Linked DNA regions of Homo sapiens: regions 1 and 2 are each linked to region 3. The links come from fine-mapping of genetic effects on gene expression. A gene starts in region 3. Each other region holds a variant in brackets. All regions are shown on one strand. Distances are between the middles of the regions. Region 1 overlaps SDK2 (sidekick cell adhesion molecule 2). Region 2 overlaps SDK2 (sidekick cell adhesion molecule 2). Region 3 holds the start of SDK2 (sidekick cell adhesion molecule 2).

The links. PIP is the estimated chance that this variant, and not a neighbour inherited with it, causes the effect.
Region 1: its variant is fine-mapped to the expression of SDK2 in whole blood (INTERVAL, PIP above 0.99).
Region 2: its variant is fine-mapped to the expression of SDK2 in whole blood (TOPMed, PIP above 0.99). The same link has a PIP of 0.9 or more in lung.

What each region holds. Positions count from the first base shown.
Region 1 is chr17:73,552,737-73,560,911 of GRCh38, reverse strand. All of the region lies in intron 1 of SDK2 (sidekick cell adhesion molecule 2), which reads left to right. Among named protein-coding and RNA genes, the nearest start is that of SDK2-AS1, 43 kb to the right of the region's middle. RefSeq lists enhancers at 1-40, 41-646. The variant C/AAAC (reference allele first, on the strand shown) is at 4,568.
Region 2 is chr17:73,591,216-73,599,358 of GRCh38, reverse strand. All of the region lies in intron 1 of SDK2 (sidekick cell adhesion molecule 2), which reads left to right. Among named protein-coding and RNA genes, the nearest start is that of SDK2, 49 kb to the left of the region's middle. RefSeq lists an enhancer at 3,664-4,209. The variant G/A (reference allele first, on the strand shown) is at 3,628.
Region 3 is chr17:73,641,002-73,649,176 of GRCh38, reverse strand. SDK2 (sidekick cell adhesion molecule 2) reads left to right here and starts at 4,732. Exons shown (of 45, transcript NM_001144952.2): 1 at 4,732-5,152. The coding sequence starts at 5,089. It overlaps LOC124904054 (a long non-coding RNA gene), which reads right to left and starts at 3,703. Exons shown (of 2, transcript XR_007065893.1): 1 at 3,483-3,703; 2 at 3,073-3,356.

The DNA of each region.
Region 1 (8,175 bases), 88 kb after region 3:
CTCCTGCCACAAGTCCTTGCTGGCCCAGACGCCACCCACTGGTCGAGGAGCCTGTGTGCTCCTGAATCAGGATCGGGAGGGGGTGGGCACCAGTGGCTCCATGATCTGACCAACCCTCACAGTAGCCCTGTAAGCAGGGTGTGTGGTCCCCAGGACTCCCCACCAACATGCGGGTGCTTGGATTTTGAAGTTCTGTATTTACACAGCTGGTAAACAGCTGCTGTCCTGACATCTCTGAAATGTTCCATGTTCCACACCTGAAGGGTTAATGAGGCCAGGCGAGGTGGCTCATGCCTGTAATCCCAGCACTTTGGGAGGCCGAGGCAGGCGGATCACTTGAGGTCAGGAGTTCGAGACCAGCCTGGCCAACATGGTGAAACACCGTCTCTACTAAAAATACAAAAATTAGACGCGCATGGTGGCGCACGCCTGTAGTCCCAGCTACTCAGGAGGCTGAGACAGAGAATTGCTTGAATCTGGGAGGTGGAGGTTGCAGTAAGCCAAGATGCACCACTACACTCCAGCCTGGGCGACAGAGCAAGGCTCCGTCTCAAAAACAAACAAACAAAAACAATAAAGGGTTAATGCGAGGCACGGTCGGGTGCAGAGCAGCCTCCAGCCCAGCTCCAGCCCTGCAGCCCAGCTGTCATTTCCATGAACATTTCTGGTTATTCAGTCTTTCTAACAACACCTTGTCTGTCATTTATTGTGGTTTTTGGTGGTGGCACTAGGAGTGACTGCATCCTTTTAGTGAGGAAACTGAGGCTGTAAGAGCTTAGGCAGTTTGCCCTTAGCTGGATTTGAACCTGGCTCTGTGTGCGGGTCCTCCATAGTTCACTGCCTGGTCTCAGTAGGGCCAAGGCAGGACCCTTGGGGCCATAGACCCGCTTCCCGTGGTGTGATGGCCCAGAGGAACCCCCAGCCCTTCATGCCATCCCTCCCAGGGGTGACTGCCACTGAGCCCAGCAAGCTAAAGATACAGAGGAAATGCTTAGTGAGGCCAAGACAACCAGCTGGTGCCCAGCCCTGGGGGGATCAGGCCAGGGACTAAAGGCTTTGAGTTGTCTCAGACCCTCTCTTTCTCTCATCCTATCTCAGCAAGGTTTTTGTGGCATTATGATTCGGGAGCACAGGCATTAGGGGCACTTGTCTCTAGCAGGACAGGGAGGTAGGGAAGAAAAGAAAGGGGGAGGGGCCAACCTTACCTGTCCCATCCTGTTCAGGCTGCAGACCTGCCTGTGGGGTGGCCCTTCGGAGGCTGGAGAGCAGCCACAGTATGGTGACATGTGTGGTATGGTGGCGGGGGCGGGGGGCACAGGGAGCGGAGTGGGGAGTGGCGGATGGACAGAGCTTGCCCCCACACCATCCTGCTCAAGACTTACTGCTCTTATCTCAGTGTTCTTCCCATCTGCCCCTCTCATTCTCCACGTTGGCAGAGAGTTCTCATTCTCAAGAGCCCGCAAAAAGAATTATAATACACATTACAATGTAATTGTTATATCGTCTATTCCATTTATCAACTCCTTGCTTCTTGCCAACAGTCTTGCGTACATTGTCCCATTTCATCCTCATTGCCACTCCATGGCACATGTATCGCCACCATCTCTACTTTACCAGCGAGGAAACCCAAGGCTCAGAGAGGTTAAATAGTTTTCCCAGAGGCAGGCAGGAAGTGTGTGAACTCGGCAGGCATGCTCTGTCCTTCGTGGGTCACTCTGCCCCATTGACTGGAACAAATACTTTCAGGATCTGGGTGTTGCTTGTGGGGCCCCGGTGCAGGCAGGAGAGTCCAGTTGAAATCAGTATTTAGGTTTTTCTTTCTCCCCATAGAGAAGAGAGAAAAGGGGAGGAGATGGTGCATTCTTTCCTTCCCATGGGTGGTTTTCCCATCTCAGCTAACTTTCGTTTGTTTCTCAGCTACCTTTTTAGTCTTTGAAATGAGGCCACGTCCTGGGAGCCAGGCTGCAGACAGAGCCAGGGAGGCAGGCGTTTTCTCTCCAGGCCGCTACTGCAGTGAGTGAGAGTACCTCTCATTCTGTAGGGACTGGTGGCCCACAGTTCCAGAAGCCAGGCAAAGAGCTCCTATCTAGGGGGAGGGTTGAGACCCCATTTGAGAGCCCATCCTCCAGGATCTTGTAGGAGAGACACATGGCTTGGTGCGGGGGCCCTGAAGTTCTGTTAACTTGGGCACTGACTTCCCATGTGAGGTGGGAAAGGCACTCCATCTCATTGGGCCTTGGTTTCTTCATCTGTCTAATGAAGCTGGATTTGAACCTGGCTGTGTGTGGGTCCTCCATAGTCCACTGCCTAATAATGCTGAGCTGTGAACTTCACAGGCTGGATGATAAAAGGAGATACAGTCAATGCAAAAGTGCTTGAACATTTTAAAGTGCCATGAAAAAGTGCTTGAATATTATTCTGTTCCTCCCTCCCTTCCTCCCTTCCTTCCTTTCTTCCTCCCTCTCCCCTCCCTCCCTTCCTCCCTCCCTCCTTCCCTTCCTTCCTAACTGAAGTTAATTTCAGAATAAGGCATCCGAGTCTCTTTCCATCTCTACCTGGGCATGGTCGTTGTCATTAATGGAGAAATTCTGGAAGGTTCCACAGGAAATCTGGCAGAACCCTAGGCAGAGCTAGTCACAGCCACATCTTTTCAGATTTGCCAGCCCCTCTGACATGTGCTCAGTGAGGCTGTGGGGTCAGAGTCTTTACTCCCCATCAATCTACTGGCAGAACTTTGGGGCTGCCCCTTTACAGCAGACCTGCACCCCTCCTGCCTCAGCAGAAGGCGCTTCACTCCCAGGTGGCAGCTCGGGCTGCTAAGTGCCCCCAGGGCACCCAGCCCATGGTGTTGGGGATGGGGCAGGACAAAGGGGGATAGAGCAACAGGGTGAGGAGGGTCCTAGAACAAGAGAGCTGGACTTGGTTGTCCAGGGAGCCCTGGGGAGAGGCTGAGAGAGAGGATGAGTGAATCCAGGTCAATGCCACTGGCTGCCATTTCTACTGCTGAGTCCAGAGGTGCCCATCGTATCACTACCTGGTAGAGGCTGCAGGCAGACCTTACTGAGGGCAGGAAATCTGGACTCACAGAGTTTAAGGAACTCCTGTTAATGGGAAAGGAAATTAGAATGGCAGGGCTTTGACACTTTGGGTTCTCTCTACCCTCTATTGAAAGAGGACCTCCAACCCAAAAACAAGGAAGGAAAGAAAAGAGGGAGATTAGGAGGCAGGGAAAGAAAGTAAGAGAGAAAGAGAGAGAGAGGAGGAGGAGGAGGATGGGAAGAAGAAAGGAAACATTATAATATTTTATCTGGCTGGGCACAGTGGCTCATGCCTGTAATCCTAGCACTTTGGGAAGCTGAGGTAGGCAGACCACTTGAGGGCAGATGTTCAAGACCAGCCTGGCCAACATGGTGAAACTCCATCTCTAATAAAAATACAAAACTTAGCCAGATGTGGTGGTACACACCTGTAATCCCAGCTACTCAGGAGGCTGAGGCAGGAGAATTGCTTGAACCCAGGAGGTGGAGGTTGCAGTGAGCCGAGATCGTGCCACTGCACTCCAGCCTGGGCGACAGGCAAGACCCTGTCTCAAAAAAAAAAAAAAATCTCGAGGTACAGCAGCTCCTGCAAAGCCTTTGAGGTAAGCCTTGGCAAGGTCGAGCTTGTTCACTGGGGCAGCCACCATTTGTTGAGCGTGCGCTATGAACTGTGTCATTCCATGAGCTTCAGTTGAAACTTACTTCTTATGAGGAATGAGTTCTCATTATTCCCATTGTATAGATAAGGAGGCCAAAGCCCAGAGAAATTGATTTGCTCGGTTTTATACAGCCAGAATATTCTGGAGAATTCAAACCCACATAAGGCCAACCCCAGTGTCTGCACTTTCTAGCTGCTGCGTGGCCTTTGCCTAGCTTAGAAGAATGAAATTTGCTAAGGTTTGTTTCCAATCTCAGTAATCATAGCCCCATACTGTCAATCTGGTGCTAATTTCCTTGTGTGTTTAACTCACACAATCCTCACAAAGCCCCTGTGAGAGAGTTTCTATGATCATCATCACCCCCATTTTACAGAAGAGAAAACTGAGGCTTAGAAAATCCCCTCAAAAGCAATACAGGGCAGAGCTCAGATGTGAACCCAGGTGGTCTGGCTCCAGAATTTGTGCTGACAGCTGCCAGGTTAGACTTCCACCCAGGCAAGCTGAGTTATTAACATCTACTGAAGTCCTTTCAAAACCGGAAACAGGTTCCCAAAGGGGAACAAATGGTAACAACCATACAATAACAGCAATGCCAACAGCCGCATAAGAATTCAGCAAATATTTTTCCTAAAATGTGTGCTTAAAAGAAGAATCATGTGCAGGTCAAACGTGAATGCCTCTACCAAAAATGAGTCACGGTACATAAACATCTGACCATACACAGCCTCATGTCCAGTGAGCATCGCCCAGATGGGCTGCCCAGACATACCTGGCTCTTCGGAGGAAGCCAAGAGAGAGCCATTGTATTTCTTTCCCATCTGGATAAAGTGAGCTCTGTCTAATCAAAGAAAGTCGTCTTCCTTTATTAAA[C/AAAC]AACAACAACAATAAAAAAAACCCAAACTCCGAAGGTAAAAGCTTGCCGCTGGCTTCTTGGAATTATTTGTATTTAACTAAAGCTGTTAGCTGTTTTGCTCTGTTGATCTGTTTGTTTGGAAAGAACCTGCCGCTTCCCATCTTGGTGATCTGCCTCAGTGGCTGTGCCTCCATTCCCGATGTCTGGGGTCATTAAGAGGGAGAGGAATGGTCCCTGCATGTGTCGTTTCCTGGCAGTGACTTCCACTGAGTGCCATCACTTTGCCAACTGTCCACCCCAAGCCCAAGCCCCATGGACAGTGCCCCCATGTCTCCCAAAGCCCCTGCCTTTCCCTGGAAACCCCAGAAGCTCAAGCCCATCTGTGCATCCACTGCCTGTCTCCCTGCAGGGACCATCCACTGCTTCTGGCCAGCAAGGAGGGCTGACTCCCTGGTCCCCCCTGACTCTCTGTGTCTTTCCCAGGAGCAAGGTTTCAAGCCGCCAAACCTCCCCAGGTGTTTGGAGTCTGCAGCATTTCAGTCCCGTGTTTGCTTTTTATGAAAGAGAAGTGATCCCCTCTGCAGAATATTAAGTGGCTCCGGCAGCTTTGGGAAGCAGAGCTGCTAATCCGCCGACATCTGCTGCTTATGTGGTCTTGGCGCCTGGCAGCCCCTCACTTCCTCTACCCCCACCTGGGCCCTTCCTCATCTTCCCAGTTGAGCTCCGGGACATTGAGGCAGAGAGGGAGATGATAGGGGATTCAGGCTAATCCACCATTCTTGCCTGATGGCAGGGACTGGAATAGTGACCTCCAAGTCCCCTCTGAGGCCCAGGGGCAGAGAGGCCTGACCACAGTGAGCAACCTTGGGCCAGCCCCTTCCTTTCCTGGGCCTCAGCATCCTCAGTACATAGAGACGAGGATGAGCTGCGCGGAGTCCAAGGTCCAGTGCACCGCTCCCAATGGCGCCTCCCCCAGGCCAGGAATACTCCCATTCACATGCCACACCTTTGCATGAGCTGTTCTCCCCACTGGAGATGAGCTCCCCCTGCCCTCAACCAGTCCAAGTCCTGCCAGCCTTCAAGGCCAGTTCCAGACTCAAGCCCTCCATGAGGCCCTCGCTGGCTCATCTGTATAGACAGCACTCCTGTTACTCCTGCTCTCTCTGGTTACCATCCTCTCCTCTGCTCAATTCATAGCCTCCCAGGGCAAGACCAAGTGCCCATAGCCCAGCTCGGGGCTGCATATGCAGCTAGACAATGCAAGCTCTAGGGTTCACCAGGGCTGGAGATGGGGATTGGCGCTGTCAGAGGGCCAACCCAGAACAAAGCTCCCCCATCCTCCTTCCTCCCAGCCTGGTCCCCAGCCAGTCTGGGCACCAAGGCCCTGCCTGAGCTCAGAGCACCTCGAGGGCTCCTGAAGATGGAAGAGACTCAGGTCTTGGCAGGAGGAAACTCACAGAGTTTTGATCCTGTAATAAAACCCAAATATGGGTTTGTAACATTTACAGAACAACCCATAAATAAGTGTAAATCAATACTCTACAAAGGATGCCCAAGAGCTCCACAGCACAGCTGGCTTCCTGGAGAAGGTGGACTTTGAGCCAGGACTTGACATACAGAGCTCACACTTGCAGAGATAGAGGAGGATGCATTCCAGGGAAGGAAAGAGATTTGCACAGAAGTGTGTATTAGTTTCCTACAGTTGCTGTAACAAATACCAGACTAGCTGGCTGAAATGATGGAAATTCATTTTCTCACAATTCTAGAGACCAGAAGTCCAAGACCAAGGTGTTATGGGGGTTGTTTTCTTCTGTGGGCCATGAGGGAAGGCTCTGTCCTTGGCATGTAGATGGCCATCTTCTCCCTGTGTCTTCACATGTTCTTCCTCCATATGAGCCTGTGCCCTCACCTCCTCTGCTTATAAGGACTTCAGCCACATGGGATTAGGGCCCACCCCAATGGCTTCATTTAACCTTAGTTACCTCTGTAAAGATCCTATCTCCAAATTTAGTTGCATTCTGAGGTACCGTGGCTTAGGACTTCAACAGATGAATTTTGGGGGCAGGAAGTTTGGCTCATAACAGTGTGGAAGTGGTTCTGCTTCATCTAGGTGCCTTTACATAATGGATTGATGAGCTGCCCCTGTGTGCCTGGCATTGCGCAAAGCACTGGGCTTCCAAAGGGGAGGATGACTTGCCCCCTGTCCTCATCAGGGGGCCTCCTGGAAGAAGTAGAAGACCTGAAAGGGGGCAGAGACCATGGGTTGATGAGGACAAGGGATCTGCTCCAGGGTTAGGAATAGGTGGTCCCAGCTCCCCCTGGAGGACATAAAACCCCTCTCCCTGTGAGCCTCAGGGCCCCAGCTCCCCTAGTAACCCTCCCTCCATGCTCCTGTCCTCTCCTCAATGGGAAGAAGCCAGGGCTTCAGGGGGATGTGTTGGGGCTGCTAGGTATCTCCCCTTGAAGAGGTCTTCTGCAGGCCAGATTTATACCTAGGGAGGGAGTAGGGAAACCACCACTCCTGCATCCAATCTTATGCCCAAAAAGCCTGAAGGGAATCTGAGGCTCAGGCTGGAGCTGGTCATGCCCCCTCTGCCAGCACCTCCTCAGGAAGGGGGTGACTGGCATCCCTGGGTGAAGGCTATGCTGTAACAAGGGTGGGGGTTTGGGGGTGGTGCTATTCACCTGCAGGAGGTGTAGGCCCGAGGAAGGAGATTGCAGGTGGGATGGAGGCTGTGGCCAGGTAGTGGCTCAGGGGTGACCCTGGGCCTCAAACCTCTCTGTCCCCCCCTGTCCTTCCTTGTGCTATCCTGGCTTCTGAGAGGGCAGCTCCCTGCAGGAAACACCATCATAGGAATAGGTGCAGCCGGCAGGGCTTGGGGGTGACTCACCACTGGGCTGCTCACTGGCCCAGTGACTTTGGGCAGGACTTGTTTGATCTCTTGAGGCCTCAGTTTTGTCATCTTTACCAAGGGGATAATAACATCCACCTTCCAGGGTCACTATGGAGACCCTGGTATTAAATAGGCAGTAAGTCCTGGCTCAAAGCCCTTGACAGTGAGAATGGTCTATCAATATCAATTTCCCTACTGGAGGCAGCCTTGGGCTCCCACCACTGGCCCCCCGTGGCCTGTCCTGCCCCATCTCTGCCTCTTGCCTCTGATGGTATTCAGAACACACACACACCCCAGAAGGTGCTTCCATGCTCAAGGCCACCTCCATGCCCAGAGTGGGGCCAAGAGCTCCCTCTGGCCCTTCCCTCCCAGCCCCCACAGAAGCCTCTGCCTTTGCATTCATCCATCCAGAGAAGCAGCGTGACGCTGCAGCCGTCTGCCCTACCTGGGAGCTGCAGCCAATCCCAAAGGGTTGGGATTAGGGTGCTCGAGGAACCCAGAACCCAAACGGGTCTGAGCCTCTCCTCTACGGCTCCTCTCCAAACAGTTCATCCCATCTCTGAGCGCCAGCCAGAGGCTCAGGGCAAGGGCTCTCGAGTTGAGAACTTGCCAAGGAGAGGGCTTAGAGTGCAGTGTAAACGAAGCCAGAGCGAGAAGTGCAAATGAGTTGGTTCAAAGATGAAGTCGCTTAGGGAACTTCGTCTGGGAAGCAGCCTACAGCGGGGTCCATTGGC
Region 2 (8,143 bases), 50 kb after region 3:
GGTTTCGCCATGTTGGCCAGGCTGGTCTTGAACTCCTGACCTCAAGTGATCCACCCCCTTCGGCCTCCCAAAGTGCTGGGATTACAGGCGTGAGCCACCGTGCCCAGCACCTTCTCTCCTTTCTTTTCTCACTCCCTCCTACCTACCTACCTTCCTCCTTCTGTACGAATGTACTAAGCACTACAAGAGACACATCAGTGGGCCAGGCCCATTGCACAGGACACAACAATGAAAAATATCCAGCCTCAGCCTTCTGGAAGCTCGGAGACTTCAGTTGGAAAAACAAGAAAAGGGGTAACTCTTTCTAGGGGGATGCTACATTTTCCACTCGCTCCTTACCCGGAAAAGTCCGTTTTCTTCAGCACTCTCATCTATTGGGGATCTGTCTAAAATTTTACTTAAAGAAAGGGTTCCACTACTTGAAGAAAAATCGAAGCAAGCCGGCGCTTGGTGCCTGATCCATTCATTTTATTGTGTAAATGGAAACGGAAAGCAGGAGAGGTGCTGTGACTTACACGAGGCCTTCGAGCTCACAGGTGCCAGGCCCTGGCCAGACCACGTCTTCTCAGCACCTGTCCAGTGCCTCTCCCACCTTCCCCTGCTGGAGGGGACATAGGTATACAGCTAGGGGTGGTCCCTGGAGGGGGATGGGCTGCTCCCGGTGGGACTATTTTTAACCTCTGTAAAGAAAAAGGCCAGCGATCCACGTCGTGCCCGCTGCCTCACACTTACTGGGCAGCTTCCTCTCCTGGAGGGTCATTTACTGACAGTGATGGGTTTCAGGTGGGCCTAGTTTAGCAGGTGGTTTCTATAAAGAGCAGAGCTGCATCCCCAGGGAACGAGAGCCGGGCAGAGGGGAAGCCAGGGGAGACAGGCACTGTCCGTGTTATGGATTTTATCGAGTCATAAACAAGGCTGGAGAATAAACAAAACTGGCTGATGCATGGGGCTGCCTCGGCCAGCTGGCTGTCAGGGAGGCCTGTGCCATCTGAGCTGCCCTGCATGAGCCCGCACAGGTGCCGTCGGCCAATGACCCAGCGACCTGAGCCAGGAGGACAGGGGGTTAGCGTCTAGGAACTCACGCCCCACACCGAGTCTCCCAAACCCAGCAAACTGCCTGTGGGTCCGGCCTACTCCTGTCACCTGTATATGCTTAGATGGCTCCAAAGTCATGGCAGTGGTGAATGGTGGGAGGGTGGCTGTTAACTGGGGTTGGGGCACGGGATCCTAGCACCCTCCCCCTGGGGAGATGGGATGGAAAAGTTCTAGGTTTGGGGCACCTGAGAACAACTCGGACACCAGCTGGCTATGTAACCTCAGAATAGTGACCCAAACCCTCTGAGCGTCACTCTTCCCATCTGTAGAAGTAGAAAGGGAATATTTCACCTTGTAGGGGTATCATAAAAATGAAATAGGCCAGGCGCGGTGGCTCAGGCCTGTAATCCCAGCACTTTGGGAGGCTGAGGTGGGCGGATCACGAGGTCAGGAGATCGAAACCATCCTGGCTGACACAGTGAAACCCCATCTCTACTAAAAATACAAAAAATTACCCGGGCGTGGTGGCGGGTGCCTGTAGTCTCAGCTACTTGGGAGGCTGAGGCAGGAGAATGGCGTGAACCCGGGAGGCGGAGCTTGCAGTGAGCTGAGATCGTGCCACTGCACTCCAGCCTGGGCGACAGAGCGAGACTCTGTCTCAAAAAAAAAAAAAAGAAAAGAAAATAGTCCAGAAGCACACAGTGAAAACTCCTATGAATACATATTTATAAGGATAGCGGTGGGCTGGGGGCAGGATCGGCAGAAGCCTGTCGTTCCATGAGCCCTGAGAGACAGGACGGTAATGTCCATAGTTCTGTTGATTGTGTGTCTCCCACGAGCCCAGGAACTATTCCAGACAGATACGTCCACATCGCAGAGTTCTATAAGCAAAGTATCACAGGAGAGGCCCCTGCTTTATAGAACTGAGATCACAGAAGTTAAATAATTTGCCTATGGTCAGAGGGTCATACCTGGCAGGGCTGAGACTTGGTCACAGGTTTCTTGTGCCCAGCTTCCAGAAATCTGATTGCATCCTCTCATCTTCCACCCAGGGCAGCTCCCCGTCTTGTGTCAGTAGTGGGGTGCTGGGTAGCCAGCACCAGGGAGAGTCTCCACCCTTCAAGGCCCCGGTGAGGTGAAGGAGAATGAAAATATCCAAAACCCATCAGGAGAATACGTGTTAAAGGACAAGAGAAAGACAGATGAGCTTGGGAACATCTTGGCTCTTGACAGGCACTCCCACAGGGATGATTCAGATGAGGTGAGTCCAGGTGCACTGGCCCGGTCCCTGGGCATGGAGCAGGTTCAGACTGAAGTGAGGAGACGATTCCTAGGGCGCCGGACTCCCGACCAGAGTCCCCAGAATGGAAATGGCCGGGGTTCTGCCTGCGCATCCTGGACTAGGGGTGGAGGGAGCAAGCGGGCAACTCCGAAGACAAGGTTAGCACCTCCCATTCCAAGCCAGCTTCATCTCCCTCTTTTGCTCAGACACCGCCAGCCATGGCAGGGAGCTATCCCCAGGGACTTGTCATCTGGAGGCCATGGAGGGAGGATGAGAGCTGGAGAGGCCACAAGATCAGAGTGGAGCTGGGAGGGTCGGGGAGGCTGGAACCAGCCACCCTGTCCTGTGTCCCCTGTTTCTGCTCCTCCTCATCTCCCTTCTGGGGGTGGGGGGAACATCAGAGACCACTGGGAAGGGGGTTGGCTGTGGGTTCCGGGGACATGTCACTGCGGGAAACAGATACATCATGAGCCAGCGCCCCCTTTCAGAGGCTGGGACGCTGGGACAGGGAGGCCAGAGAGAATGCAGAATATGTATATGCAGAAATATATTGAGAAGTAAAATGCACTGATAGGAGTTTTCGTACATTCACACAAACCCATTATGCAGATGAGGAAACTGAGGGTCGCAGAGGTTGACTGGAGCTCCGGCCAATGTTCATACCGTGTCATGCCCCTCTCCAGGGAGGGGAGGAGGCTTCCTCCAGGTCCCCAGTTGGAGTGGGGACCCAGGTGTGTTGACACCTTGCCCTGATCACTGCCCCATATGCCAGGCTGCCTTCTCTCATAGAGGTCGCCACTGCCTCCCCACTCACCCTGCGGGTCCCTCTCCACTACCCCTGCCGCCCCAGATTGCCCAGTGGCTCTGTCCCAAAGCTGCCCAGGACCCAGGTCTCCAGGCTACCACCACCTGCAGCTGGGACTCCCTGTGTGTGCATCCCTGCCCAGGACAGCCCAAACGTGTTGGGGCAGGCACAGGGGGTAGGTGAGGGCCGTCTGCCTGGGACATAAGACTGGGAGTGCCGAGGCCTCACTGTATCCCCCTAAGGCCAAGACCTCTGACTTCTGCAATCCTATGTGTCAAGGGCTTCTCCATCAGGCCGCCTAAGCCATGTCTGCCACACTCTCGGGCTGCTTGATGGCTGCTTCTAGGCAGCAGGGAGCCCCACAGGATGGAGCCTGTCCTCCCAGCTCCCCTGGCCCCTCTCAGCCCCCCTGGCTGCCTCCAAGCCTTCTAGGGAGGATAGGCCCTTGCCAGGGCCTGCCGGTGAGGAGTGGATGCCAGCCTTGAACTGACACTGCCCCCACCAG[G/A]CCCCCCTCCAAACTGCATGCTGGTTCCCAGTGGGTCAGCGGCTACTCCCCGCACCCCAGCTTCCTGCCTGCCCTGGGGCTGTGGTGAACAGCTGGGGCCATCTGGGCCTGGCCTGGGCCCCAGGCTGCCTTTCTGGTGACTCCATACCTCCCTAGGAGGGAGCCTGTGCCACTGGCCAGTCCAAGCGAGGAGGAGACAGCGTTTCCTCTGATGACCCGAGGCTGGGTCCCCTCCAGGGCCCAGACTCATGGCTGTGTGGGAGGCTGGTGCTGTGTGGGATCTCTTGGAAGCACAAGGGCCTCCTTCCCAGGCCCTGGCACACACCAATATTGTGCCCAGACATCCTTGGGACACCCCCTCAATCTGGAGCCATAGGGCAAGAGAGTCTCACCACAAACGGCATTCATTACCTGTGGCCACCCCGACTCTATTTCTCTGTCTCTCCGACACAGGGCCACGCTCTCCCCCAGGCCTGCCTCTCCCCATCTCTCAGACCTCCCTTTCCTCCCTCCTCCTCCTCCTCCTCCTCACCTTCACCCACACTCGAATTCTCACTGACACCCCTTCTGTGGCTCATGGCTTCACTTATTCAGCAAGTGCCCACCCAATGCCCACTTATTTCAGGCACCGTGCTAGGAGCTGTGGGTACAGAGGTAGAAACAACAGAAACAGGCCGAAGTCTTTTCTCGTGGTGATGGCGTTCTGATTGAGGAGGTGATCCACAGAGCAGAGGGTGACAAGGGCTGGGGGAGTGAAGCAGGCAGGTAGTGAGGCCTGTTGTATGTGTGTGTGCACGTGTGCTGTGTGCAGGTGTGTGCTGTGTGTATTTGTATATGTGCAGGTGTGTGCTATGTATGTGCTGTGTGTATTTGCATGTGTGCATGTGTGTGCTATGTGTGCATTTGTATGTGTGTCTGTGTGCTGTGTGTATTTGTGTGTGGATATGTGCTGTATATTTGTGTGTGTGCATATGTGCTAAGTGTATTTGTGTGCATCTGTGCTGCATGTATTTGTATTTGTGCATGTATTTGTGTGCATATGTGTGCTATGTATTACATGTATGTGTGCATATGTGTGCTATGGGTGTATTTCTGTGTGTTCTGTGTGTATTTGTATGTGTTGTGTGTGTGTGTGTTCATTGTCCCATCATGAGGCAGGCAGGGAGTCTTGCAGGAGCAAGCACATTGCTGGGACTCCAGCTTGCTTCTGTGATATCTAATATATTCTCTCTCTCTCTCTCCCCCTCCCTCTCTTCCCATCTCCTCATCCCCACCACCAACACTTTCCAGGGGAGCAACCAAGTTCTTGCCTCTAGGGTCTTAGGGAGCAGCACTGGGGGAGGGAAGGGCATCTTTATACTCAGGAGAAGGGCTTGAGACCATCTGATCTGGAGCAGTCTGAGGACATGAGACTCAGGCCCTCAGCTGCTGCCCGGGGGAAGGCCAGCACCCCAGCCTGAGGGGGTCAAGGGTCGAGGGAGCTGTCCAGTGGCTGACCTTCCCCTACAGCCCACGAATCCCCATCAATGCCGCCTTCCCGCTGTCCAACACTCAGCCTCAGAGGCTGGCCAGAGTGAACCACCTGCTGGCTCCCAGACGTTGGGAGGCCTGACATGACCAGGTTTGGGGAAACAGTTTTTGAGTTGGAAACGATATTAGATAAAGCTGGATTGGAATTCCAGACATATTTATTGCTGTGGGTTGTGGGGCCATTTTCTTAACCTCCAAGCCTCTGTTTTCCCTTCTGTTACATGGGGAGGTTGAAACCTACCTTGTAAATTCCCTGTGGGGATTAAAGGAGATAATGCAACCAAATTGTCCAACACAGACTCGGCCACATGGCCAGTGCTCAAAGAAGGACGGACAGTGAGATATGGCCAAGGAGGGTAAGTGAGGAGCCAGGGACAAAAGAAGAAGAGGGCTGAGGAAGCAGGGTCCCCTCAGCCCTGCCGCCCAGGCCCCTGTGTTATTTAATAGCCACTTTCAGCTGGTGTCTCCTGGAAGCCTTCTGCCTAATCCAGTTAACACCTTCCGTGATCCGATTACTGCATGTCAGAAACCCCAAATCTGATCAGTAAACATGTGAGTGGCACACTTTGGGGGGGCACTGCAGAGAAGGGGTTCAGCTTGAGGTACCATCTGCTCCTTCCCTGGGGGGCTCTGGCCCTTCCAAGCTAGGTGTTCTGCCTCTGGGTCTATTGTCCTGGGCCACTCCTGGTCCCTTAGAGGCAAATGTTGTCCAGGTTACCCCAGGGCCCAGAGCGCATGCCTCATGGTCTCTGGGGGAAGCCCCCCACACCCCATCTCTGTTCCTTTGGGTGGGGGTTTCCTGCACAATGAGGAGGAAGGATGCTCTTGTGGCCAGGATAGGGAGTGGGTGCTGAGGCTCCTTCATTCTCTGCTCCCCACAAACGTTTTGGGCCTCACAGTAGCCCAGCAACTTGAATTACAGAGGTGTCTGGGCCCCCAGGAGTAACTCTGGATCCAGGGATGACAGAAGGACCACAGAGCCCCACATCCACACTGAACACAGCCCCCCAGTGGCACAGACGTAGGCAGAGGGTGGGGTGGGGTACCCAGCCTGTCGAGGGAAGACCTGCAGCAGGAGCTGGGGTGGGGAGGAGGAGGAGGGACGGCATTTGCGCGGTAAGCTTAGAAACAATCCCCCCCACCCAACCCTCCCTGGGCCTCGAATGGGGAATGAGCTGGCTGGACCGGCTGAACTCCAAGTGTACGTCCCACACCACTCTGGGGTGATCCTGTGACACCGGCGAGCTACGGACACCCCCATGCGCTGCAAACACAGCATTACCGGGGTGAGCTGAGGTTAAACCCTGAAATATGCTTGGGAGACGGGCATGTGGCCAGGCCATGTGTCTGTGACTCTTTGATTCCGTAGATTCCCCAAAGCTCTTGGTGTCACGCACGGTGGTTACAATAGGCTCTCCCTGGACCTCCGTTCCTGTCCTCCTTCCGGAAATGGGGAGCCGCCAGGGTGTGCCTGACTGTTCCGTCTTCCCGTCATCTGAGCATCCTCAGCCAGCCACCAAGGTCCCTGTCCTCGCGCTTCCCCGGCCCTCTCTTCCTGTCTTCATGCCCCAGGCTTGACTCAGGGTGACAGCTCCTGGTGTGCCCCGGTTAGACTCCAGACAGTCACATTTCTGGAAGCCAGCTAACCAGGCCAGGAGGTGGTGGGGACAGATGGCTGGAGGTGCTGCCGGGGGCATGGGGAAGAAGTCGTCCCCACCTCCATGTGGTTGGCCTGCTTAAAAAATAAAAAGCTGGAGACTCTTTCCCTCCCACACTCCCTCTTTGGCTGGGTTCTGACTCCATTTTGGTCATTTTAATTTTTATTAGTCCAGTAAAATCTGCTCTTACACATTTCTGATCATACAGGTGTAACCCTGCTGGCAGGTGCAATGCAGCCACACGGAGCCAGCCTCTAATTTCGGCATGATGGGGGCCGAGAGGCCTAGATCTTTCCAAGAAGTGTACAGTGCCAGGCCCACGGAGGCATGGCTGTGGCCTGCAGCCCATGATGCTTTCTTCCAGTTGTGGATTTACCTTCCTTTTTCTGTGGTGCAAGGGCTACTGGTAGACAGGCTGCAGTTCCCTGCATTCATCGTTATTGACAGATGAAGTCCGGAAGCCTGGGATCAGCATGAGGTTTTTAAGCTGAAGGGGACCGCAGAGATCAACTCCCCCCTCATGTGGGTGAGAAACTGCAAGGTGCATTCATAGCACGTACCCCACGTCCCCAGAGAGGCTGGGTGTGCTCTTGGCAGCCTTTTATCTCTCCTCGAGTCTCCGCTGCACTCCAGACCTGGCCACTCTTACCGTTTTAGTGCTTGATGCTCTTTGAAGATGAGGAGGCTTCCTGACAGCCGCGTGATGGCTGCCCTCTGGTATTGCCCCACCCCACAGATAAGCATCTCCGCAAAGCTCAGTCATGTGCCTGCATGAGTAGGGGGTGCTGGATGGGGACCAGGTCTCCTTGTGTCCTCTCATACCTTTCGCCATGCCATGTCCTAGTTCTTGTAAACCTGCATCTCCAAGTAGATAGGGTGCCAGATAAGAGACAGGATACCCAAGTAAATTTGGACCTCAGATAAACATTGCTTCATCTTTGAGCACCAGCATTCCCCAATTTGCGAGAGTATTCTACACGTCCTACAGGTTTGCACTGTTGCAAACCCCAACTCTAACAGCCTTGGGTCTGAAGGGAAGTTCAAGTGTAACCGAACATCCTGTGTTTGTGTTTTTGCTAAATCTGGCAACCCCACTGTGGCGTCCCGGAAGAGTGTGCTGGTGGCCGGGGGAGCAGAGAGCTCAGGGCAGGTGTTGTGCTGAAACCCTGTTAACCTCAATAGGGAAGGCACCAGGTTCGAGAAGCTGAAGAAGAGACCCGGCGCCAGCAAAGGAGACATAGGGTTTTATTAGGGGCTTACATCCAGGGGAGGGTCCAGTGGCAGCTGTCTGGACAGGAGAAATGCCTTACATATAGAAACAGTTAAGA
Region 3 (8,175 bases):
CAAGGTAAAAAGAAATAGGCTAATTCTTTTTTAAAATTATCTTTATTTAACTCAATAGCTGCAAACTATAATCATTTCAATGTGTGTCAGTAACCCAGTCTGAAGTGCTCTGTCTCACACATGGCTGGTGGTTATCATACTGAACAGCAGAATTCTATGCTAGACACTCTACTAGTATGCATGCTGAAAATGTTTTCCAGAATAAAAACAAAAAGTTGACAAACAAACCAAAATGCATGTTGCTTACACTGCCCAGTCTATGGTATTTTGTTATGTCAGCTGGAGCTGAGACAGGGACTCAGGGCTTCTCTCTCTCCGATTGAGATTAATAAACCACTTCTACCTCTTCCACTACTTCCCTTTCTCCACCTTCAACACAGAACAAAAAGGAAAAATGAATGCCATGAGGTATTTACTGGAAGCCCTTGTTTCAAGGCAGTGAGGTGTCTCAGTTCCCTGCAGGTAGTATAGATGGCTTTGCTGAAAGTCTCTACTCTGGGGGGCCCTGGCCCAGCCCCACCTACAGCAACCCTGAGAACAGCCTCACTCTGAGGAATGAGATGCTGGGAACGGCGTAGTTGGGAAGCACGAATGAGTGATTTTGTTCTGTAGACCCATAGTTTAAAGGCCACCTCCACTCTGCCTCCTCTTCTGGCCTCACTCATTTTTCTTCTAAACTGAGTTGTGTCCAACCCTTGCGCTCACTCCTTCCACCTTCTTTTCCCAGGCAAAATCGCCACCAGAGTGCATTTCTTGGCTAAGGGCAGCCCCCAGCAACTTGGGAAGCAGAGAACTTGGGATGAGGGAGTGGGTACAGGGAGTGGGTACAAGGCGTGAGGAGGGAGCAAAAGCACGTGCCGCTGCCTCCCTGGTATCACCGTCACTGCCTCCTGGCTGGTCCCTGCCAGTCCCCGACACAGATCCGGGGCTGCCAGAGGATACAGTCTTACTCTGCAATTGCACACTCTGTTCTAGCTGCTGTTACATTTGAGATTGAAAATAGAAAAAAAGAGACACAATAACCATATTGAAAAGCTGATTCTGTCCCTGCCCAGCCTTTGGGTTCTGTGTGGGAAATGGAGTGTGATGTAGAGGGACGGCAGGCTAAGGAGGATCTGGGCCTTCTGTGGCTGAGCAGCTCATCTGACTGTCCTGGGTTTCGCCTTCGTGCTCCTTGGCTGGGGCATGGGGTAATTCTCCTCCCACTCTGAAGCCTCCCTCACAAGATTCTGCAGGGCTGCCCTTTCGTTGACTATGTGTGGGATGGAAGGCTAGGAAAAGGGCCCTATCTGGGGTTCAGTGAGCATTTTCCTAGAAGGGTAACATTTGAAAATCACATCCACTTGGAAGGGAGAAGGAGACAGAGCAGAATGATCTAGGCTTTTCCTTCTCTTTGGAAATGTGTTGTGATGCTCTCTGCTTCCGCCGCCCCCCACCCCGAACTAAAAGAGCCAAAGGTATGGAGAGGAGGGTCTTCAACAAGGTGCAGACCCCGGGCATGAGGGAAATGGGATATAGATGAGGAAGACCCAGGTTCCGTCCCGAGTGTTCCGGGAGAGCTGTCCGTGCGGGCTCCAACAGGAAGGGGCAGGCTTGCAACAAGGAAACAGAGTGAGCCTGGGAAATCCTCGCAGCCCTCCTGACGTGGCGCCCACTGTAACTGTACCGATGCAACCTCTAATTATACCGCTGGTGGCAAGAATGAGCTCATGGTGTCTGCAAGTGACTTTCCCAGTAACGAGCCCCTCTCAAAGTGGCAGACTCCCAGCTCAGCCTTCTCCTGGGCCAGCAAAACTCTGGCAAGAGGCAAAATCAGAGAGTTCCTTCCTGTGTGTGTATGTGTATGGGTTGAGGCCAAAAAGAGCTCAAATCTTCTTCTTCATCCTAGATGGATGGAGACCGAAATCTGCTGTAGGAGCTGCAGGAGTGGTGTCCTTTCCTCTCTAACTGGCAGGCATGCCTGGAGACTTCCAACAAAGAAAAGGAAACCTCCTTCCTCACACCAGTCCCTGATGGGTCCCCGTCTCACGTGTTAGGGATGAAACTCCCAGAAGAAGGTTTGTAGGGCTCCAAACGGTTGTGCAAGAGGCCTCCTCTTAATAAGGGAACGATGCTATTCGAGGCCCTAGGCACGTGGAGCTCACATTCCTGCCTGCTGGACTTCTGGGAATTGGGCACGATCAGGGTGGAATCCACCCAGGTTTCAGACTTTTATGTCCACGCGAACTCCTACCCTCTGTGATGTAAACGGAGATGCAGCCCTTTCTGCTATCTGGCCTAAGAGACAGAAGGAGAGGTTCCCCGCAAATACGGCTCTCAGGCCCCCTCTGTGAGCGAACAGAGTAACAGCACCCTAAAGACCAGAGCTCTTCCTGACAGTCTGGGAAGGGCCTGAGCTCACAGCTGGGGACATTCAGAGTATGTAGGGGGTGTGCACTGTCACATCTGGGCATCATTAAGCAGGTGGGAGTGACATGGCCACCAAGGAGAAGGAGAGTTGGTCACATCTAGGCTGCCTGCCCCCAAAGCCCTCGCATTTACAAATCAGCCAGCCAGAGGGGCTTCAGCTGGGGATGGAGCAGGTTGCCAGGGGGAAATGTTGTTTGAATTAGGTGATTGAAACGCTGTAGGCAAGGCAGGCCAGCTTCTCAGACATTTTTAATAAATGCTTACGGTTCTTCTTCCAAAGCAGGTGAAAGGAGAATATATAAGTAACGATATATTTGCGGTGGCTATGCCTATTCCACAGCAATCACAAGGGGTGTCCTTGGGGTGGGAGTGCGCCTGGGAAAGAGTTGGCAATCAGTGAGTGACAGTCCTAGACTTCAAGGACCAGAAAGACTAGGCAGCCGTGGGGGACCAGACTAAGTAGGACCACGAGAGAGAGTAGAGAGAAGCACTGTGGCAAAAGATGGAGGGTCTCACTAGCTCTTTATTTCCCAGAAGAAATATCAGACACGCAGGGTAGACTTCTGCATTAAGCACCGCAGGCCCAGTGCCAGGGACCATAGTCTTTTGGGGCCCATGAAAATGTTTTGATTTCTTTTAAAATCAGAAAAAAATAAGTAAAGCTTTAGGCTGAAGAACATGTTTTAATATGCAATATTAATATACTTTTCCTTATGCCAACGCAGTTGCAAAATCTTATTTTTAATAATTTTGTTAGCAGGGAAAGGAGTCCACCGAGGCGAAGGCACCTGAAATTTTCCCAGTGCCCGGGAAATTTTAACAGAAGCCTGTTAACCCCAGCTGAGCTTCGTGGAGTAGGCGCTAGCTCTGGGCCACAGCAGAGGACGCCTCCGGGCTCTCTTGTTTGAATTCCTCCACCAATGTCCGGTTCTTCTACTCTTTACAAGCTGGGCTCCGAAGGAAAAAAGAAGAAACAAAGAACGCACGCTCCTTGGCACCAACTTCACTTTCTCAGGCTTCTGCAGGTCCCAGGCCTCCCGATGTCTCCCCCTCCGCCCTGAGCATTTCCAGACCTTGGAGAGCCTGACTTGGGAAGGGGAAACTGGAATCAATCGGTTGACCGACCCCCTTTTCCCAACCGCCGCCTCCCCACCAATCACTCCATGTCCGGAAGGGGGCTGGGGGCTCCCGACTATAGGAGACTCTGGGAGTCCTATGAGGCCTTTGAGACAGGGGCGCGAGCGAGGCTGGAAGGAAAGGCTGGGCAGAGAGCGGAGGGGCTCGCGCGCATCTCTCCCGGCGCGGCAGAAGGTTGGCACTGCTGCCCCCCTGCGGGTCCCAGAGCCGCTGGGCGCCCGCGGCCGCGCAGTCGGATTGTATTTCTGCGGGGCTCGCTCCCGGGCCTGGCTCGGGGCCGCCGCCGCCGCCGCCGCCCCTCCCGGCGCGCAGGCTGCTCTCCAGTCGCGGCCACGGGGTAGCGCTCGGCCCCCCTCTCCGCGTCTCCGCCTCCGCCGCGCTCGTCCCCGGCTCACGCTGCCCCCGCAGCTCCGGCTCGGCGCAGGCAGGAGCGGCTCTCTGGACGCCGAGCCCGGGAAGCGGAGGGCGGCGGGCTCGGCGAGCGGCAGCGGCGGCCGAGGCGCTGGGGCGGCCGTTGCTCCTCCGGCCCGGGAGGTCGGCGATCGCCGGGCGTCCGAAGGGGCGCCGCGTCCCCGGAGCCGGGGCTGCCCGCCGGGCTCTCCGTGCGTCTTCCCGAGAGCTCCGGCCGGGGCGCGGCGGAGGGCAGAGCCGCCGGTCTCCATCCTCGGGCCGGCAGGAGGCTCTGCGCCCGGGCGCCGGCGACAGCCCGCGTCGCGAAGCCCAGCACCCTCCCCCGCCGCCCCGCGGCTGGCGCGGACATGGGCGCTCAGGGCTGCGCGCCCGGCTCCGGGACCCGCAAAGTTTGCTAGCCGGCTGGGCGCGGAGCCGAGGGCGCGCCCGGCCCCAGCGCCCCCGGAGGAGACCCGGCGTCTCCCGATTCGGCGCGAGGGCGGTGGAGCCCAGAGGGGGTGGTTCGGCCCCGCCAGATGCTGCCTGCAAAGTTAGAGAGAAGAAAACTTCAGCTCCAGGGAGATTCGGACCGCTATGCTCACCGCGTCCCCCGAAACCGGCGCCCCTAAAAGAACCCCCGCACCCGCGTCTGCCACTGCGCTCGGCTCTGGCCGGGTCCCGGGGGCCCGGCGCCTGGAACGGCGGTGACTGCGTCGGCCGGGAGAACCCAACCAGGGGGCGGGGAGGGGGCGGGCAACGTGGCCACGGGAGGAAGTTTCCTGAAGTTGTCCATTTATTCCGGAGCTCGGCCGGCGACCCGGCCGGATCGCAGAGGCCGCCCTGTTTGGGAGAAGTCGGAGTTGGGGTGCTAAGGGAGAGAGGCGCCCTAGTCCGAGAGGGCGGCCTGGCCTCTTTCTCCCTGCTCGCCCCTCGCCTTCCGGGCGCGCTGCCGGGCTCGGACTAGTACAGAAGAGGAGGAAGGGTTGGGGTAGCCAAGCGCTGCCCCTCCCGGGCATATTACACCCCGGGGCACGGAGCCGCGTAGACTGACTGTTTCCTGGGACTAAGCCACGGGGTATCGGACCCCACCAGGATTATAAAACAGGGCGGAGGGAAGGGAGACCCCGAGGACCCCTCTCCAGGCTGGTCACCATGTGGGGGCTTTTGATCTGGACACTGCTAGCTCTGCATCAGATCCGCGCGGCCAGAGCCCAAGGTAAGGAGGGACCCCCACGTGGGGACAGGGAGGGGGCTGGGAGAGTGGGCGGGGGAGGGGCGGCGGGAGCTGGCCGGCCTCACGGTGACCTCCTGGACACCCGGCTTAGCCGTGGCAGAGCCCTCTCCAGGGAGTTTCAAGACACCCCATCTCCCAAGTTTTGGGGCTCTTTTGGGGGTGGGGCAGTCTCTCCGAGACTTGTGGCTTCCGAATGGGGGAAGGTGGGGACGACCTGGGGAGGCAGAGAAGAGCCCAAGGTGAAGTGGGAGGGGCGCTCCCCTCCCCCCGTCTGCTGTGGCTGCCCTGCGCCGGCTTGGGAGGGGAGCGACATTCCGTGCCGGGCTCCACGCTCGGCTACGCTGAGCTTCCCAGACCGAGCTCCTGGTTCCCTGCTCGGTGTCTGCGGGGAAGGGCAGGGCCCCTGCCGGGCAGGCGATGGCCTCCCCGGGGCGAGGGAGTGGGGTGGGCGAGCGCTGGATGCCGGGTTGCTCGCCCGGGGAGAGCAATTGCCCGGCTTGGCCACGTACGGGAGCCCGCCCCTGGCTGCTCGGCCAGCCGCTGGGGCTGGGGGTGCTTCGCTGCGCGGGCCTGGAGCCAAGGTCGCGGGTGCAGCCGCGGACCCACCGGGGGGTGGTGCACAGGGAGGGTCTGAGGCCTCCCCTCCTACCCATCCACCCACACCCAGCATCCCCGCCCCTGCCTCCAGCCTCCGCTGTTCGCTCGATAGTCTGTGCAGCCGCTCGCTGCTGTGACCTGTGGCTGCCGGGAGCAGCCTCGCGGTGGAGAAGGGCTGGTGGCTTTGGGTTTGGGAGTGCTACGAAGGATCCGAGGTGTGATCTGCGCTGCCCGCTTCCTGAGGGTGGATGCCCAGACGTCCCCCTGGTCCCCGGGCAGGTCCCCGAGGTGAAGGGCGGCTGCACCGGCGGTTCCTCGACTTTGGGGTTCGCCGATCCAGACAGTGGTGTCAGCGGTGTCCGAGCGGCGCCTGCTGGGGGCGGAGGGAGACGAAGCCTGGACCGAGCTCCAGGACTCGCAGGGCTAGGCCTTCACTCTCGCAGGCTCAGGAGGGGGCCAGACCCACCCTAGGGGTCCGGACTGTGGGGGCTGCAACCCACTCCCCACGCCGCCTCGTGCGCCAGGCAATCCAGAGAGCCAAGATCAAAGAGATGAAAATAATCAGCTCTCACTCACAGGGCTGAGGGGAGGATTTTACGAGGTAATTTACATAAAAGCACTTCGAAATTTTGTAACGAGCCCTATAAATGTAGGGTAATAAAAGTTATTATTTTTATGATCATCATAAAATCTTTGAACAAGCGAGGACCTCAGAGGTCATCTTATTCTAGTAGCCATTTAACAGATAGGGAAACTGAGGCCAAATGGCATTAAATGACTTGCCCAAGGCCACTCTGTGATCTGGGGGCAGAGGCAGGTCTGGAACCAGATGAGTTCTGAGCCTCTCTCCCTCAAACCAGGACTAGCTGCATGGGGTCTCCTTGGTCTGGGCCCCCTCTCTGAGGGGTCCCAGGAGGACCCTGATGCTGGCAGAATAGGAATGGGTTGTCCTTCATCCTGGAGCAGCCTCACAGTTGTGCTCTGGGACAACCAGTGTTACTAGCCAAAAGCCTGGACGGCGTGGAGGGACGGGATGCCAGCATCTGTCTGGACCCTTCTAACTTCATTGCTCTACAGACTTTTCAACAATGGTATGATTTCCCTGGGCAGGTGGCTCACCAATTCTTGTCTCATCTAGGACCAGGCCCTTATAGAGTCCCCAGGGCACCTGATGGCCCTTGCTTTGGGGTCTTCATGTGTCCCTTCCTGCCCCACGTCCACACCTGTGCCATCCACTTGAGGCCAAGATCCCACCCCTCCTGCTGAAGTTAAGGCCAGGTGGCCCCCTGTCCCTGCGCCTCCTGCGGGAGGGGCTTCCCTGTCAGAAGCAGAGAAAGTCTCTGTGATTGATTCACTTCCTCTCTGCCTTTCTTGTTTGCTGGCTTTTTGCGTGTCAGGCTGCCCAGGTCCCCTGCTGCTCCGCTCGTGTTCTCTGGCTCCGAGAGTGTTTTCCAGCATCGAGCCCTCTCCTGCTGTGTGTGTCCCTGGAGGCAAGCCTTGCAAAGGATTGTGGGAACGTGGTCCTAGGCTTGGCAGTGCTGGGTTTGAGTGTTGGAGGGGGTGGGATTAGGGCATGAGGTCCTTTCTTATCTGCTTTGGGGTTAGAGAGTGAGTTTTTTCCAGTCTCAGGCCATGACATTAATCCTTTGGGGGGTAGCTGAAGCCACTAGCACTGTCATTTCTGAGCCCACAAGCCTGCTTCTCCAGGCATGGCACAGAACGAGGGACGAAACAATTGTTCCTCCCTTGAGACAAACTTCACATCGACCACTGTCACCAGATTTTATCTGAGCCTAGCCTGGTTGGTTTTTTTTGGGGATGGGGGGTGGGTGCTGGACCTGAGCGACATCACCTGGGTATACTGAAAGCTAACATTTGACCATTGGCCGTATGCCCGATGGGTCACATGATGCAAACTCATTTCCCAAGCAAAGTGCAGTGAGGTTGTAGAAAGAGCATTGGCTTTGGCAGCAGAAAGAACGGGCTCTCATGATCTGGCTTTGCCGCTTCGCTGAAGAGAGGCCTTCTGCAAGGCTCTTAGCCACTAAGAGCCTCAGTTTCCTCATCTGTACACTGGCAATAATAGCTCTTGCCTTGTAGAATTGCTAGGAGAATTCAAGATATTCCAGGGGCAGGGCCCCAGCCAGTGCCTGGCACATAGAAGGTACTTAATACATGGCAATTATTATTCTTGTTATGACGGTTTTAACATTAAGCTAGAAGTCCATGAAGAATGGTACCCTGCCACCCACCAATAAGACCTTGAATTCTTTTTCCTTACCCAGGAGGTTTCTTTAAATTCCTTCCATGGCCACATCACTGTGTCTCAAAGAGTGGCCCTCAAGCACTTAGCTCCCAGGGAGTTGTAGCAATGCAGATTCTTGGGCTCCGCTCCCAGACACTGATTG